2 separate regions of the Homo sapiens genome follow, and region 2 is linked to region 1. The links come from fine-mapping of genetic effects on gene expression. Tissue or cell type: left ventricle. Region 1 holds a variant in brackets; the other region holds the start of a gene. All regions are shown on one strand. Distances are between the middles of the regions.

The links. PIP is the estimated chance that this variant, and not a neighbour inherited with it, causes the effect.
Region 2: it holds the start of CYP4Z1, and the variant in region 1 is the best candidate, but not a certain one, in a credible set for the expression of CYP4Z1 in left ventricle (GTEx, PIP 0.55).

What each region holds. Positions count from the first base shown.
Region 1 is chr1:46,806,905-46,814,699 of GRCh38, reverse strand. CYP4B1 (cytochrome P450 family 4 subfamily B member 1) reads right to left here. Exons shown (of 12, transcript NM_001099772.2): 2 at 3,751-3,892; 3 at 3,516-3,560; 4 at 2,077-2,204; 5 at 1,094-1,218; 6 at 637-791; 7 at 385-491. Among named protein-coding and RNA genes, the nearest start is that of CYP4B1, 12 kb to the right of the region's middle. The variant G/A (reference allele first, on the strand shown) is at 3,155.
Region 2 is chr1:47,062,835-47,070,629 of GRCh38, reverse strand. CYP4Z1 (cytochrome P450 family 4 subfamily Z member 1) reads right to left here and starts at 3,399. Exons shown (of 12, transcript NM_178134.3): 1 at 2,963-3,399; 2 at 1,867-2,008. The coding sequence starts at 3,139.

The DNA of each region.
Region 1 (7,795 bases):
CCTAGCACGGAAATGACCCAGAGTCAGAACTCAGTGAGTTTCTAGAATTGATGAATAAAGAACTTACTGAATGAATGAATGAATGAATGAAGTCTAAGATTCTAGGATTCTACAAGGCCAACATTTTGGGGGATCTTAGAAGTCTAGAAATGTCGTCCAGCCACTACCACGTGACCTAGGCTCCCAACTCCACAGCTCAGGCACACACACCCTACACCTGCCCACCTCTGAACCCCTGCTAATATGTTTCATGGGACGAGGAACAGGTTATATTTGCTGAGGAAAGGGGGAAATGCTTAAGAGCTCCTTCTGCTGTCCTGGGAGGATGGTTGAAGACCTCTCTGGGACCAGTCCTCAGGTAGGGGTGGGCAACAATGTACTCACCCGGGCACCCAGGAGAATGTCCAGGAAGTCCAGGTGCCTCCGGTTCTGGATCTTCTTCCGCACCTTCTCATCCTGCAGGGCTGCCTTCCGCTCCCTGATGACCTGGTCTGAACCAAAAGCACAGAGTGTCACTGCCTGGGAAGCCATCTTTTGTCCAAAGGGGAACTGGGGTCCTATAATGGGAGGGGGCATAGAGGGGCCAGGAGGAGGAACCCAGGCTTCCTAGAGGTGAGCCTTGTGGGAAAGGCCCACCTGTATGGTCATGGGCCACCTGGCAGGCCCGCAGGAAGCGGCGGCCATGTGGGGTGAGCCAGTAGATGAAGTCATTATGGTACTGGAAGGACACAAGGCGCTGCTGCATCAACAGAGTGAGATCGCTGACTGCAAGGTAGTAGCTGCTGTCCCTGCTAAGCAGAGGGTAGGAGGAGGGATTGGCTTAGACACTGGCCCAGGAGCAGAGCCAGAGAAACTCCATTCCAGGAATCTAGCCCCAACCACAGAGCATCCTGCTCTTCTTCTCCCTGCCCTTAAGCCTCCTTGCTAAAGCCAGGTGTTTACCCCACCATGAGCAGGTCCTGTCTCCCCGCAAGCTAAGGCTCCCTGGGGCAGGACCCTATCTCTTCTCAGATCAGAGCCCAGGACCCCTGCCAACTCTCCCCTCTAAGATGGCTTTGGAGACAGTGCGGTCAGCCCCGAGGTGGCTCCTGACCTGTGGCCCAGGCCGGTGTCTCCTCTTCCAAAGGTGCACTTCATGAGTGTGTTCAGCGCCATGTGACCCACATCGCAGAAGATGTCAAAGGACTTACCCTCCCGAGCTTTCTCTTCCCACTTGTCCTGGAGTCCAGGGATAGGAGGCAATGTGTAGGAGGCGATGCAGGGGTTAGTTGGGCTGGATGCCCCAAGCTGCCCTCCAGGACCCGTAGCCTATCCTCCACCACCAAGCCCCCTTCACACACTCCCAGTCCCTGTCCTGCCCTCCATCCTGCTGGAATATCAGGATAGGGTGGGTAGAAGTTTGGAAGCCTCTGGGCTTCAGGCTCAGAGGGCAGGACCAGGAGGCAGATCTTGCACAGCACACAGACGTTTTCTCCCAGTCAGGGCAGCCTATAAGGGAGTAGGATGGCTGAGAGGTGGTGAGCTCCCCCGCATGGTGTATATGTAAGTAATCCTGGAGGGGAGTTTCCTACAAGGGGAAAGACTAGCCTGGATAACTTAGGGATTACCCAGCCCTAAGACTCTAACCCTGACCTCTGACATCCCTCTTAGAGATGAGTTGTATTGACATAATTCTGGGCAGCTGTGGTAGACAGAAAATGAGGAGACACGTTTTAGATGTGAAAGCCTTTCCCCATACTCTCAAATATAGGCAGTCCTCAAACCTGCTATGCTAGGAGCCTTATTAAGTTCTCACAGAGACCCTTTGGCCTGGGAGGAAAGAGGGCTGGGTCTCCTGGTGGAGACAAGGATCGGGCTGCCAGGACACTTAGAGATTCAGCACCGACTCAGTGGCAGCCTGCGGCACATGTCAGTAGAGCAGGGCTTTGGCACTGCTGTTGCAGGCAGAACAGGCCTTGGGGCTCAGCTATTCTCCTTACTGCAGAGCACCACCTACTCTCCCCAGGACAAAATCAGGGTGGAGAGGGGCTAGCCCAGCAGGCAACAGCCTCCAGTACTCTGGCACAGGGAGCTCACCAGCATGATACGTGTAGACTCAGTGAACACGGCCACATAGGGCTTCAGCACATCATAATGAAAGCCAGGTGTGAGCAGCTTGCGGTGCTGCAACCACTTGGGCCCCTCAAGAACCAGCAGGCCTCTCCCTGGGGAAGGGATGGGAGAGAGAGGGCTGGTCAGTCCAGGCCCTGGCAGCCTGGGGCTAAGCACATCCTACACGACTCCATCCCTGAGCCTGGAACCCTCCAAGGGTGGGCCACTAAGCGACCCAGTATTGCCCTCCATGCCCTCACCCTAGGCTACCAGGACCTCAGGAGACAGGTGGCAGCAGTTCTTGGCTGAGTGAGCTCCTTCCTTAGGACAGGATAACTCAGTTTCTGTATCTCAGCTGCACCCACAAAGCCTGGGTCCAGGAACTTGTGTCAGATGACATTGCCAGATGTGAGACAAAGGACACGCATCCCCCTGGGGACAGCCAAGCAGAGGGGGAGCCTGCTGAGCCTTGACTCTCAGCTGCTGAGACTGGCCACAGCTTCAGGACTTAGGGAATGTCCCACCGTGTTCGTGCTTCATGGCCTCAGGTGGGACCCTTCCTACCCCACTCCAACACACCCAGCAATGGAAATGCATTCCTGTCTTCAAAACCACCTCTTCATTTTCCTAACCCTTTTCTGTCTGCCTTCTAATTTTATCCTCCCATTGATAACTAAAAAGAGGGTTAGAAGCAAAAAGTCTTCCCAGTGGTACTCGGTGAGTAAATAGGATTGGGAATGTGTTCTCCCTCTTGGCCCTGCCCTTTCTCAGCTCCCAGGAAAACGCTGAAGACACCATAGGATCATGAGTAAAAGAGGAGCTTTGGAGAAGCATATGGCCTTGGCTAAAGAATACTCAATGGCTTTAACTTGAGTACCTCTGTAAAGGAAAAAGTAAAATAAAATAAAATAAAATACTCAATGACTCCCACCTACTCTCAACATCAAATCACCTCCTTATCCTGGCAGTCAAGGCTGGCCTGTCCTCCCTGCCCAGCATCATCTCCAAGCTGGGCTCTGCCTTGTAGCCACCCCGACAGCCTCACAGCCTCTGGTGACCAGCC[G/A]TGGTCCTACCACCACACCATTTCCTTAGGCCCTTGCCCTGGCCAGCACTACCTATTTAAATCTCCTTTTGGATCAACTCTAGTGCCACCTCCTTCAGGAAACTGTTCTTCGCACTCACACATTCTCCAAAGCCTTTGCCCTGTCTAGAGAATCAGGCCCTGCCAGAGAAGATGCCTTGGCCCCACAGCTGGGGGCTCTCCTGCTCCTCCCTTGTCTCTCCACTGAGCAGCTGAGCTTAGGATGGGCACCCGAGAACTAGGCCATCTGGGATAACCAATTGAGTGGGACAGGCCAGGATCCTAGTCACCCAGCACCACGGGTCTGAGGTTGGCAGGGCAGGGAAGGCAGGTGCTCACTCACCAATCCACTGGAGGAAGAAGTCATACACATCAGGGGCCTTAGGGTCTGCAGGAGGAGACAATCAGGTCAAGCAGGGACCCGGGGTTCCTAGAGGAGGCTCATTTATGAGTAGGGTGGGAACCTCAGCTCCGCAGACTTAGTACACAGGCCCAGGCTTCCTCCCCATATCATGCCCTGAGCCCTTTGTTCTCAGGAAGCCCCACCCTCTCCTGAGATCCCCATCCTCTCTCCTCACCCCCACGGCTGTACACAGCTTTGGCATAGTCAGGCTCATAGATGTTCAGGAAGCCAATGAACTGTCCGAACCAGAGTGGGTGGGCATACGGGAACTGGTGGGCCCAGGACACCACTTTGTCCAGGCTCCCCGTCTCCTGGATCTGAAATGATGACAGAAGGCCAAGGTCACTCAGGAACACATTGTCACCAGCTAGGCCCCAAGTCCCTGGGAGGGCAGGGGAGAAGGCTGCCCAGGCAGGCCCTGGTTGCTTCCTTACCTCTCCTGCACCCTCTTCTCCTAAACATCCCTGGGCTTAGTCCCCTCTCCAGCCCCACAACCACTGCTCTAATTCCAAGCCGCCCTCTTCTCACACCGGGGTTAGCTCAACATCCCCAAAGTAGCCAACCTGCTTCCATTTAGCACCTGCCACCAACTCTCTACTGCACTGCAGCCAGAAAGTGCTTTCTTCTCCACATTAAAGCTCTTTAATTATAAAGATAGGTAATATTTGCTCATTGTGCAATAGAGAAATGGCCTCAATTCCACCCCTGCCGTATCGTTCAACACATTTTTATTGAGGGCCTACATGTGCAGGGCTCTGTTCTAGACATCTCAGGGGAATGAGACAGACAAGTTCTGCCCTTTCATTCTATGGAGAAGACAGATAATAGACAAGTAGACAATTAAGTAAAATAATCACAGACAATAGTGAGTGCTCAGAATAAAAACAGTGCTATGAGAGACACTAACAGGGAGGGCCTGCTTAGATAGGGTAATCTTGGAAGGCTTCTTGTTGGAGACAACATTTAAGGTGAAACTTGAAGGATGGTGAGTCTCTGGCCATGTGAAGCATAAAGGAAAAGCATTCCAGGTGAGAAAACAGAAAGCACAAACGCGCTGGGTTGGGAAAGATCATGGTGTCTTCCAGGAGCTGCCCCATGGTGGGACAGTCACCTGGGATGAGCTTGAATAGGTCATCCAGAGGGTGGTACATGTCCTTTGGAGGTTTTTCTAGTCACGTTTACTCACCCAGAGGTGTTTTAAGTAAATGAAGTTATACAATAAATATTTTTGCAAAACCAGCCATTTTTCATTGAACATAACTTGTCCTCCTTTCCAAGCTAGTGCACTTAACTGTCATTACTATTTTTAACAGTTGTGTAGTATTTCACTATAAGGATGTACCATAATGTATTTAACTATTTTTCCCCATTTAGTGGGAGTCTTTCAAAGATACACTTAACACTCCTAGTGGCCTGCCCAGGGGCCTTGGAAAAGGTCCAAGCTCTGGAGTTTGTGGGGAGGCATGGTAATGACTAATCTTTATTAAGCACTTGCTGTGTGCTAGACCTTGTTCTAAGCACCTTACATTTTGACCTGATTGAATCCTCACAACAACTCTAAGTGGTCCCATTTTAGGGAAGAGGAGCCTAAGGAATAGAGAGGTTAGGTTACAGTCCCATAAAATTCCTGTTGAGGCCTGAGCCTGTGCTGGGCCTGCTTTTTCTCTCCGTAAAATTCTCTCTCACAATTGCCACCTATTCACTGATAGTATCCAAACAAATTAGGAAGGGAAAAATGTCCAAACCTTAATAATTTGGACATTTGTCCCCTCCTAATCTCATTTTGAAATCTGATCTCCAATGTTGGAGGTGGGGCCTCATGGGAGGTGTTGGCATCATAGGGGTGGATCCCTCATGAATGGCCCTGGGGCCATTCTGGCAGGATTGAGTGAGTTCTCTTAGTTCCCATGAGAGCTTTTTTTTGTTTTGTTTTGTTTTGTTTTTTTTTAAGGATTTTGCATATTGTTTATTTTTTTGTTTTTTGTTTGTTTTTTGGGTTTTTTTTATTATACTTTAAGTTTTAGGGTACATGTGCACATTGTGCAGGTTAGTTACATATGTATACATGTGCCATGCTGGTGCGCTGCACCCACTAACTCGTCATCTAGCATTATGTATATCTCCCAATGCTACCCCTCCCCCCTCCCCCCACCCCACCACAGTCCCCAGAGTGTGATATTCCCCTTCCTGTGTCCATGTGATCTCATTGTTCAATTCCCACCTATGAGTGAGAATATGCGGTGTTTGGTTTTTTGTTCTTGCGATAGTTTACTGAGAATGATGATTTCCAATTTCATCCATGTCCCTACAAAGGACATGAACTCATCATTTTTTATGGCTGCATAGTATTCCATGGTGTATATGTGCCCCATTTTCTTAATCCAGTCTATCATTGTTGGACCTTTGGGTTGGTTCCAAGTCTTTGCTATTGTGAATAATGCCGCAATAAACATACGTGTGCATGTGTCTTTATAGCAGCATGATTTATAGTCCTTTGGGTATATACCCAGTAATGGGAGGGCTGCAGGCAACCTACAAAATGGGAGAAAATTTTCGCAACCTACTCATCTGACAAAGGGCTAATATCCAGAATCTACAATGAACTCAAACAAATTTACAAGAAAAAAACAAACAACCCCATCAAAAAGTGGGCGAAGGACATGAACAGACACTTCTCAAAAGAAGACATTTATGCAGCCAAAAAACACATGAAAAAATGCTCATCATCACTGGCCATCAGAGAAATGCAAATCAAAACCACAATGAGATACCATCTCACACCAGTTAGAATGACAATCATTAAAAAGTCAGGAAACAACAGGTGCTGGAGAGGATGTGGAGAAATAGGAACACTTTTACACTGTTGGTGGGACTGTAAACTAGTTCAATCATTGTGGAAGTCAGTGTGGCGATTCCTCAGGGATCTAGAACTAGAAATACCATTTGAGAGCTGTTTGTTAAAAAGAGTCTGGCACCTCTCTCTCTCTCTCTCTCTTTCTCCTTTCCTCCTCTCTTGCCATGTGATGTCTGCTCTTCCTCATGAATAGCAGTTTCCTAAAGCTCCTCCTCATGAATAGCAGTTTCACCAGAAGCAGATATTGACCATGCCTCCTGTACAGCCTGTGGAACTGTGAGCCAAATAAACCTTTTACCCAGTCTCAGGTATTCATTTACAGCAACACAAAGGACTAAGACATCCATGTTGTATCTTCCAGGGAACATTCTTAAAGAAGGACACAGGCATCTGATAATGTAGCCCCCAGGGATCCTTTCTGGCCCAAGCCACTATCTCCAAGGGCTCATGGGATTGGGCCTATTTTGGCCTCCAGCCACCCGTCTGTGCCTTCTCTAGGGCTCTTCCCCTCCTAGGCCCTCTGTGGAGTCGTCTGTAATCATCCCATTGATCCCTTCCCTCACTGCCTCTGAACGCAGAATCCTGAGTTCAACCCAACAGGGCTGTAAGAGTTTTCACTGCCCTTGAGTACACGATGTCAAAAAGAACACAAAGTGATAAAAATCATCTCCACCCACAGGCAAGGGGAAACATTCTTGTATGCCTGCCTCCCTCCTGGCTGGTATCCCTGGAAGTGCTCCTTTCCCTGGTGTCTGTCTTATTTTTCCATCTGCCCTCCTGGGTTTTCCTTGCCAACTTCCTGGTCACCTGGCCATTCCCCTTCTCTCCATCCCTACCAGGTCCAGAAAGCCCAATTGGATGGGTCAAGGAAAGGCTTAAGTCACAAAAAAGCCAGACTCATAGGATCTTAGGATTGGAAGGAGCCTTTGGCTGATCTGGTTCATCCAAGCCCCACTTCCCTCCTTATCAGCTATGCTTGTGCACCTCTGCAGCAACCCCACAAGGGACAGTAGACCCTGGTCTCATGCTGACCACATTCACAACCTGTGCCCTGATCGAGGTCGCAGCCAGCTTGCCACTGCCTCCCTGTGCCCAGCTTTCTCCTAGCTCTTTAGATTTATTTAAGAAATAAAGAAAACTAAGATAAATAAAAAACATGTGCATGAGCCCAAGCGATGGCCAAACTTTTAAATAAAGCTAGAGAACTAGAAGCACCTGCCAGGCACCTGCCTTGATTACCCCGGGAGCCTGGTAAGAAGGAGGACAGCTCCCAGCACCTGGTCCCACTATTGCAGCTGCAGCCCCTCAAGAGGGCTGAGGCATCCTCCCTGTGGGGTACACGTGACTGCCTGGACAGTTCCTCTGG
Region 2 (7,795 bases), 260 kb before region 1:
TGATATATACTACAACATGGATGAACCTTGAGGACATTATGCTACATGAAATAAGCCAGTTACAAAAGGACAATATTGTATGGTTCTACTTATGGAGGTACCTAGAATAGGGAAATTTAAAAAGACAGAAAGTAGAATGGTTGTTGCCTGAGGCTGGGGGGAGGGGAAAATGGGGAGTTAGAGTTTAATGTGTACAGAGTTCCAGTTTGGGAAGATGAAAAAGTTCTGAAGATGGATGGCGGTGATAGTTGCACAACAATGTAAATGTATTTAATGCCATTAAATTGTATACTTAAAAGTGATTTAAAATGGTAAATTTTTAGTTTATGTATATTTTACCACAATAAAATGAATGTAATTAAAAGAAAAGCACATATGGGAATATGATATCAATTAATGACACTAGAGAAGGGTACAATGGGTGTTCAAAATTTCTCTTGTAGGGTTGAAAATTTTCAAAATAAAAAGCTGGGGATAAGATGATTTGGGTGGGTCTGGCCAGAAATAATAAGAGCAGGATTCTCAGCTCTCCTTTTTTGGCCACCGTGCTTCTGCAGTGGGACTCAAAAAGAAGTACTAATGTGTGGCAGATAAATAACTTAACATCCCATACTCTGTATATTATTCTGCTCTTTTCTCATGTAACTGTACAGTTATCACACTTCAAGGCATAAAATTATCCTTTTCTCTGAGGAGGAGACAATTTTAGGCACCAGCAGGGAATACAAACCAAAGGAAAAGAAAACAAAACAGTAAGAGAAAAAAAGCAAGAGAGGGAGAGAAATTCTTGGCTTCTCTGGGAAGGAGCTAAGGTTGTGAGTTGAAGACAATGGGGACTGAAGAAAATATGAACAGGAAGGATGGCTTTCCCTGTATGGCCTGCCCAGATGCCCTTACAACCAACCACAAAAAAAGAAAAACAGCCAGAAACTAAGCCTCCCTTCTCAAGGGAGTGAACACACTGAAGAGAGAATTTGTAGATAAAGAAGAGAAAATAACTCCAAAGGAGAAACAATCACTTTCCTCTTTCATCCCTTTTGGGCAAAGGTCCAAAGGTGAGAGCAGAGCATAAAGGGGAGCAGAGTAAAGTTTGAAACTGGATAGCCAGACATTTCTTGCACCATTACCAGGAAGAAAGCTGAGATGGTGATTCTGGCAGAGTGCCCTGTGAAATGAGAGAGCCACAGGCTGCTTGAAATTTTGCAGAAGCACCAAGAGTGGTATGGAGGCATTTTATAACTGAATGACTCATGTAGGTAGCTGGGAGAGTGAGGCGAAGGCCAGCCTTATATGCCAACAGGCAGTTGAGGAAAGCCCAGTGGGGGAATCCTACACACATCTTGCCACGGCCAAGAAGCAGCTCTGCAATTCCACGGAATTCCCACACTAGGGACCAGATGGAGAACTGGTGTCCACTTGCCAGAGCCTCCAACCTGGCACTGGCCATTCCCAGAGGACAGGCAACATTAGTGGGCAAAGCATCTATGGGGAACACTCATCTCTGTGCAGCACTGGCGTTAAGCCAATTGTAAGCAAACCACCACTGCATGCCCAACCCACTGTATGTTCACAGTGATGGTAAGTGGTAGTCCTGGGGGTCTGAGGTAAGTAAATGTGATGGAAGCATCAGAAAAAATTTGCCATGTAGGGAGAGAAGATTGCTTGAAAATGGATCAGAGAATCCTCTACAACAGCCCTCAATAGAGTCCTGACTATGATGTTGAGGAGGACATGGAATCTTCCCTTCAACATATCAAATGATGGATTTCCCTTAAAAATGCTTCAACCTGTCCTTCCCTAGTGCCACAGACACCCTGAGACCCTCTTTGTTGCTGCTCTGTACTGTGAGCCCCTCTTGGTTTTTACCTTGTCTTTTCAGGAGAATCTTGGCATAGTCTGGGTCATGGACACTGAAGAACATCGTAAAGGGTCCAACCCACAAGGGAACAGCACATGGGTATTTTTCCATCAGCTTATGATACACCTCAAACTCCTTTACTGGGTAAAACTGTCATAAGATAAGTCATGACTGGTTAGTAAAGGTTGTCACCCCAGGAGGACCCCTTTCCCTCGGATGGACCATGTGCTAAGTTGAGGATCTGTGGACACCACCCCATCAGACAGGTTCACATCTGTTGAAGGCAAGTTTTCTTCTCCATGTGTCTCCAGCACCTCCACAGAATCTTCGTGGCCCTGGGCAAGTGCTCAGGACCTGTTGCTGAGCGATTGGTCTTCTCACTCCAGCGTCAACTTTGGAGATTTAAGTTCAAATCCCAATCTGACACTTATTCATTATCTAGGTCATCAGGGCCATGATTTCCTCACGTGTATAATAGGAAGACCAAATATATTTTACAAAGCTGCCATGAAAATTAAGTGAAATTATAAACATAAAATTCCTGGCACAAGGTAAACCGTTAGTAACCACTGATGCCCTACCTCATCTTTGCTCTGGATATACCCACTCATGCTTTATCTGCCTCCAAAGCAGCGAAGTCTCACATGCCTTTTACTCCTTTTGGTTGCTGCTCATCTTTCAACTTTCCTTTCTAATTTGCTAAATGTTTTCCTATTTCCAGCTTCATTAGAAGCTGTAGCATCTTGGTATAGTTCCTGTTAACAATTGGCTTGGTCTATTTCTCTCTAGAACACCCAGAGTCCTGAGAATAGTAAAGACCTTGGCCTTGAATCAGAAGACCAGGGTTCAAGTTTCATTTCTGTCATTTATGAGGTGGGTAGCACAGGAAAGTTGCATTTCTATTTTAGGCTTCAGTTTTCTTATCTGTAAAACAGGAATAACAATATCTTTCCTCCCCATATCATAGAATTTTTGTAAAAATCACAATGAGATTGGTGTGAAAGCATTTTGCATATTACATAATGCCCCACCAGTCTGTGCTGTTTTTTTTTAATACCTCATCTTTCTGTCCCTTAACCTCCCCAACTAATTTTCTCCTCTTACCTCCTTGTGGCCATAGAACCAGTGGGCAGGGGGTGCAGGAAACAGGTGCAGGGCTCTGATCATCCATCTCCTCCTCTGGTACAACCTGATTACCTGAAACAGCAGCAGAGACATGCAGAGGAGGATCAGCAGCAAGAAGGGGTGAGCCATGAGTTCCTGAAGCCAGGAGGGCTCCATTCTTCTCAGAGGTCCTGAGCTCTGGAGAGCCTGAGAGAACTGAGCCAGGGAGAATGCAGGTCTCTCATAAACACAAAGGAGATGCCCCCTGGGCAACACTGGGCTTTCAAAATGCCATATTCAGGGAGGGGACATAAGGAAGAGGAAGCCTAATTAAGTCTGCAGGGTGAAAACTGCTGAGATGTTGGCCAGCAGACCTGGATTCTAGAAGAACAAGATTTTCAGATAGGAGCCATGTGCATGACAGCTCACACCCATATGAAAGCTTTGCTGCACTGCTGTCCCCTTCCAGAATCTAAAAGTTCCCATCTAGTCATCCTTTGTCACACCTCTATACATTCTTGTAAAAAATCTCCCCCACTCTCATTCTCTGTTCTTTTTTGTTTATGTTTCTGATAGAATTTATCTTTCTAGAGAAGTTTCAAGTTCACAGAAAAATTAAGCAGAAAGTTCAGGGAGTTCCCATATATCACCCCTCCCTTCCAGCTTCCCTGATTATCAAAATCCTCCACCAGAGTATAACACTTGTTACATTTAATGAACCTACAATGACACATTATCGTCACCCAAAATCTTAGGTATATACCTAAGTTTTTTTTTTTTCTATTTTGAAAGGGGTTGAGTTCTTGATTTGATTCTCAGCTTGGTTGCTGCTGGTGTACAGCAGAGCTACTTATTTGTGTATATTAATTTTGCATCCTGTAGGAGCTTTTTGGATGAGTCTTTAGGCTTTTCTAGGTATACGATCATATCATCAGCAAACAGTGACAGTTTGACCTCCTTTTTACCAATTTGAATGCCCTTTATTTCTTCCTTTTGTCTGATTGCTCTGGCTAGGACTTCCAGTACTATGTTGAATAGAAGTGGTGAAAGTGGGCATCCTTCTCTTGTTCCAGTTCTCAAGGAGAATGCTTTCTACTTTTCCCCTTTCAGTATAATGTTGGCTGTGGGTTTATTGTTATGTGGCTTTTATTACCTTAAGGTGTGCCAGTTTTGTTGATGAGAGTTTTAATCATAAAGGGATGCTGGATTTTGTTAAATGCTTTTTCTGCAGCTATTGAGATGATCATGTGGTTTTGTTTTTAATTCTGTTTATGTGGTGTATCACATTTATTGACTTGGGTATGTTAAATCATCCCTGCATCCCACTTGATTATGGTGGATTATCTTTTTGATATGCTGTTGGATTCAGTTCACTAGTATTTGATTGAGGATTTTTGCATCTATGTTCATCAAAGATGTTGGTCTGTAGTTTTCTTTTTTTGTTATGTCATTCCCTGGTTTCGGTATTAGGATGATACTGGCTTCACAGAGTGATTTAGGGAGGATGCTCTCTTTCTCTATCTTGTGGAATAGTGTCTATAGAATTGGTACCACTTCTTCTTTGAATGTGTGATAGAATTCAACTGTAAATCCATCTGGTCCTGGACTTTTTTTTTGTTGGTATTAAAAAAAATTACAATTTCAATCTCACTGCTTGTTATTGGTCTGTTCGGCGATTCTATATCTTCCTGGTTTAACCTAGGAGGGTGGTATATTTTCAGGAATTTATCCATCTCCTCTAGGTTTTCTAGTTTATGCATATAAAGGCATTCATGGAAGTCTTGAATAATCTTTTGTATTTCTCTGGTATCAGTTTGTAATAGCTCCTGTTTCATTTCTAATTGAGTTTATTTGGATCTTCTCTCTTGTTTACTTCGTTAATCTCACTAATGGTTCATCAATTTTATTTATCTCTTCAAAGAACCAGGTTTTTCATTTCATTTATTTTTTGTATTTTTTTTGTTTCAATTTCATTTAGTTCTGCCCTGATCTTTGTTATTTCTTTTCTTCTGCTGGGTTTGAGTTTTGATTGTTCTTTCTCCAGTTCTGTGAGGTGTGACCTTAGATTGTCTATTTTTGCTCTTTCAGACTTTTTGATATAGGCATTTGATGCTATAAACTTTCCTCCTAGCACTGCTTTTGCTGTATCTTAGGGTTTTTGATAGGTTGTGTCACTATTATTGTTCAGTTTAAAGAATTTTTAAATTTCCATCTTGATTTCATTGTTGACCCCAAAATTATTCAGGAGTAGGTTATTTATTTTCCATGTATTTTCATGATTTTGAGGGTTCCTTTTGGAGTTGACTTCCAATTTTTTTTCCATTGTGGTTTGAGAGAGTACTTGATATAATTTTGATTTTCTTAAATTTACTGAGACTTGTTTTGTGGCCTATCATATGGTTTATCTTGGAGAATGTTCTATGTACAGATGAATAGAATGTATATTCTGCAATTGTTGGGTAGAATGTTCGTTAATATCTGTTAAGTCCATTTGTTGTAGGGTATAGTTTAGGTCCATTGTTTCTGTGTTGATTTTCTGTCTTGATGACCGGTCTAGTGCTGTCCATGGAGTATTAAAGTCCCCCACTATTATTGTGTTGTTGTTTATCGCATAGTAATTGTTTTATAAATTTGGGCGTTTCAGTGTTAGGTGCATATATATTTAGAATTGCAGTATTTTTCTGTTGGACTAATCCTTTTATCATTATATAATGTCCCTTTTTGTCTTTTTAAACTGCTGTTGCTTTAAAGTTGTTATGTCTGGTATAAGAACAGCTACTCCTGCTCACTTTTGGTGTCCATTTGCATAGAATATCTTTTTCCACTTACCTTAAGTTCATGTCAGTCCTTATGTGTTAGGTGAGTCTCCTGAAGACAGCAGAAATTTGGTTGGTAATTTCTTATCCATTCTGCTGTTCTGTTTCTTTTAAGTAGAGCATTTGGGCCATTTACACTCAATATTAGTATTGATATGTGAGGTACTAGTCTACTCATCATGCTATTTGTTGCCTGAATAACCTTGTTTTTTTTTAATTGAGTTTTTGTTATGTAGATCCTGTGAGATTTATGCTTTAAGGAGGTTCTATTTTTGTGTATTTTGAGAATTTGTTTCAAGATTTAGAGCTTTGAGCAGTTCTTTTAGTGCTGGCTTGGTAGTAGTGAATTCTCTCAGCATTTGTTTGTCTGGAAAAGACTATCTTTCCTTCATTGATGAAGGTTAGTTTCACTGGATACAAAATTCTTGGCTGACCATTGTTTTGTTTAAGGAGGCTAAAAATAGGACCCTAGGCTGGGCACTGTGGCTCCGTCTGTAATCCCAGCACTTTGGGAAGCTGAGGTGGGTGGATCACGAGGTCAGGAGATCGAGACCATCCTGGCCAACATGGTGAAACCCCATCTCTACTAAAAATAGAAAAATTAGCCAGGCGTGTGGTGGTGTGCCCTGTAGTCCCAGCTACTCAGGAGGCTGAGGCAGGAGAATCACTTGAACCCAGGAGGCAGAGGTTGCAGTGAGCTGGGATCGCGCCACTGCACTCCAGTGTGGGCAACAGAGTGAGACTCTATCTCAAAAAAAAAAAAAAAAAAAAGGACCCAAATCCCTTCTAACTTGTAGGGTTTCTGCTGAGAAATCTGCTGTTAATCTGATAGGTTTTTCTTGACAGGTTACCTGACACTTTTGCCTCACAGTTCTTAAGATTCTTTCCTTCATCTTGACTTCAGATAACCTGATGGCTATGTGCCTAGGTGATGAACTTTTTGTGATGAATTTCCCAGGTGTTCTTTGAGCTTCTTTTATTGGGATGTCTAGATCTCCAGCAAGGCCAGGGAAGTTTTTCTTGATTATTCCCTCAAATATGTTTTCCAAATTTTAGATTTCTCTTTTTCCTTGGGAACACCAATTATTCTTAGTTTTGGACATATAACGTAGTCCCAAATTTTTGGAGGCTTTGTTTATTTTTAAAAATTATTTTGCTTTGTCTTTGATGGGTAGGGTTAATTTGAAAGACTTGTCTTTGAGCTGTTAAGGCCTTGCTTCTGCTTGTTTGATTTTATTGCTGAGACTTTCCAGTGTATTTTGCATTTCTGTAAGTGTGTGTTCAGTTTCCAGAAGTTGTGATTGTTTTTTATTTGTGCAATCTATTTCACTGAAGAATTTTCCTTTCATATCCTGTATCATGTTTTTGATTTCTTTAAGTTGGACTTCACCTTTCTCTGGTGCCTCCTTGATTAGCTTAATAATCAACCTTCTGAATACTTTTTCTGGCAATTCAGAGATTTTGTCTTAGTTTGGATCCATTGCTGGTAAGCTGATATGATCTCTTGGGGGTGTGAAAAAACCTTGTTTTGTCATATTACCAGAATTGTTTTTTTCTGGTTCCTTCTTATTTTGATAGACTATGTCAGAGGGAAGATCTGGGATTCAAGGGCTGCTGTTCAGATTATTTTGTCCCAAGGGGTGCTCCCTTGATGTGATGTTCTCCCCCTTCCCCTAGGAGTGGGGCTTCCTGAGAGCCAAACTGTAGTGATTATTTTTGCTCTTCTGGGTCTAGCCACCCAGCAGAGCTACGAGGCTCTAGGCTGCTACTGGGGAGTGTCTGTAAAGAGTCCTATGATGTGATCCATCTTCAGGTCTCTTAGCCATGGATACCAGTGCCTGCTCCAGTGGAGGTAGCAGAGGGGTGAGGTGGACTCTGTGAGGGTCCTTGGTTTTGTTTTTGTTAGTGCACTGGTTTTGTGTTGGTTGGCCTCCAGCCAGGAAATGGAACTTTCAAGAGTGCATCAGCTGTGGTCCTATAGGAAAGATGCAAACTTGCTGTAGAGACACCTGGTTAT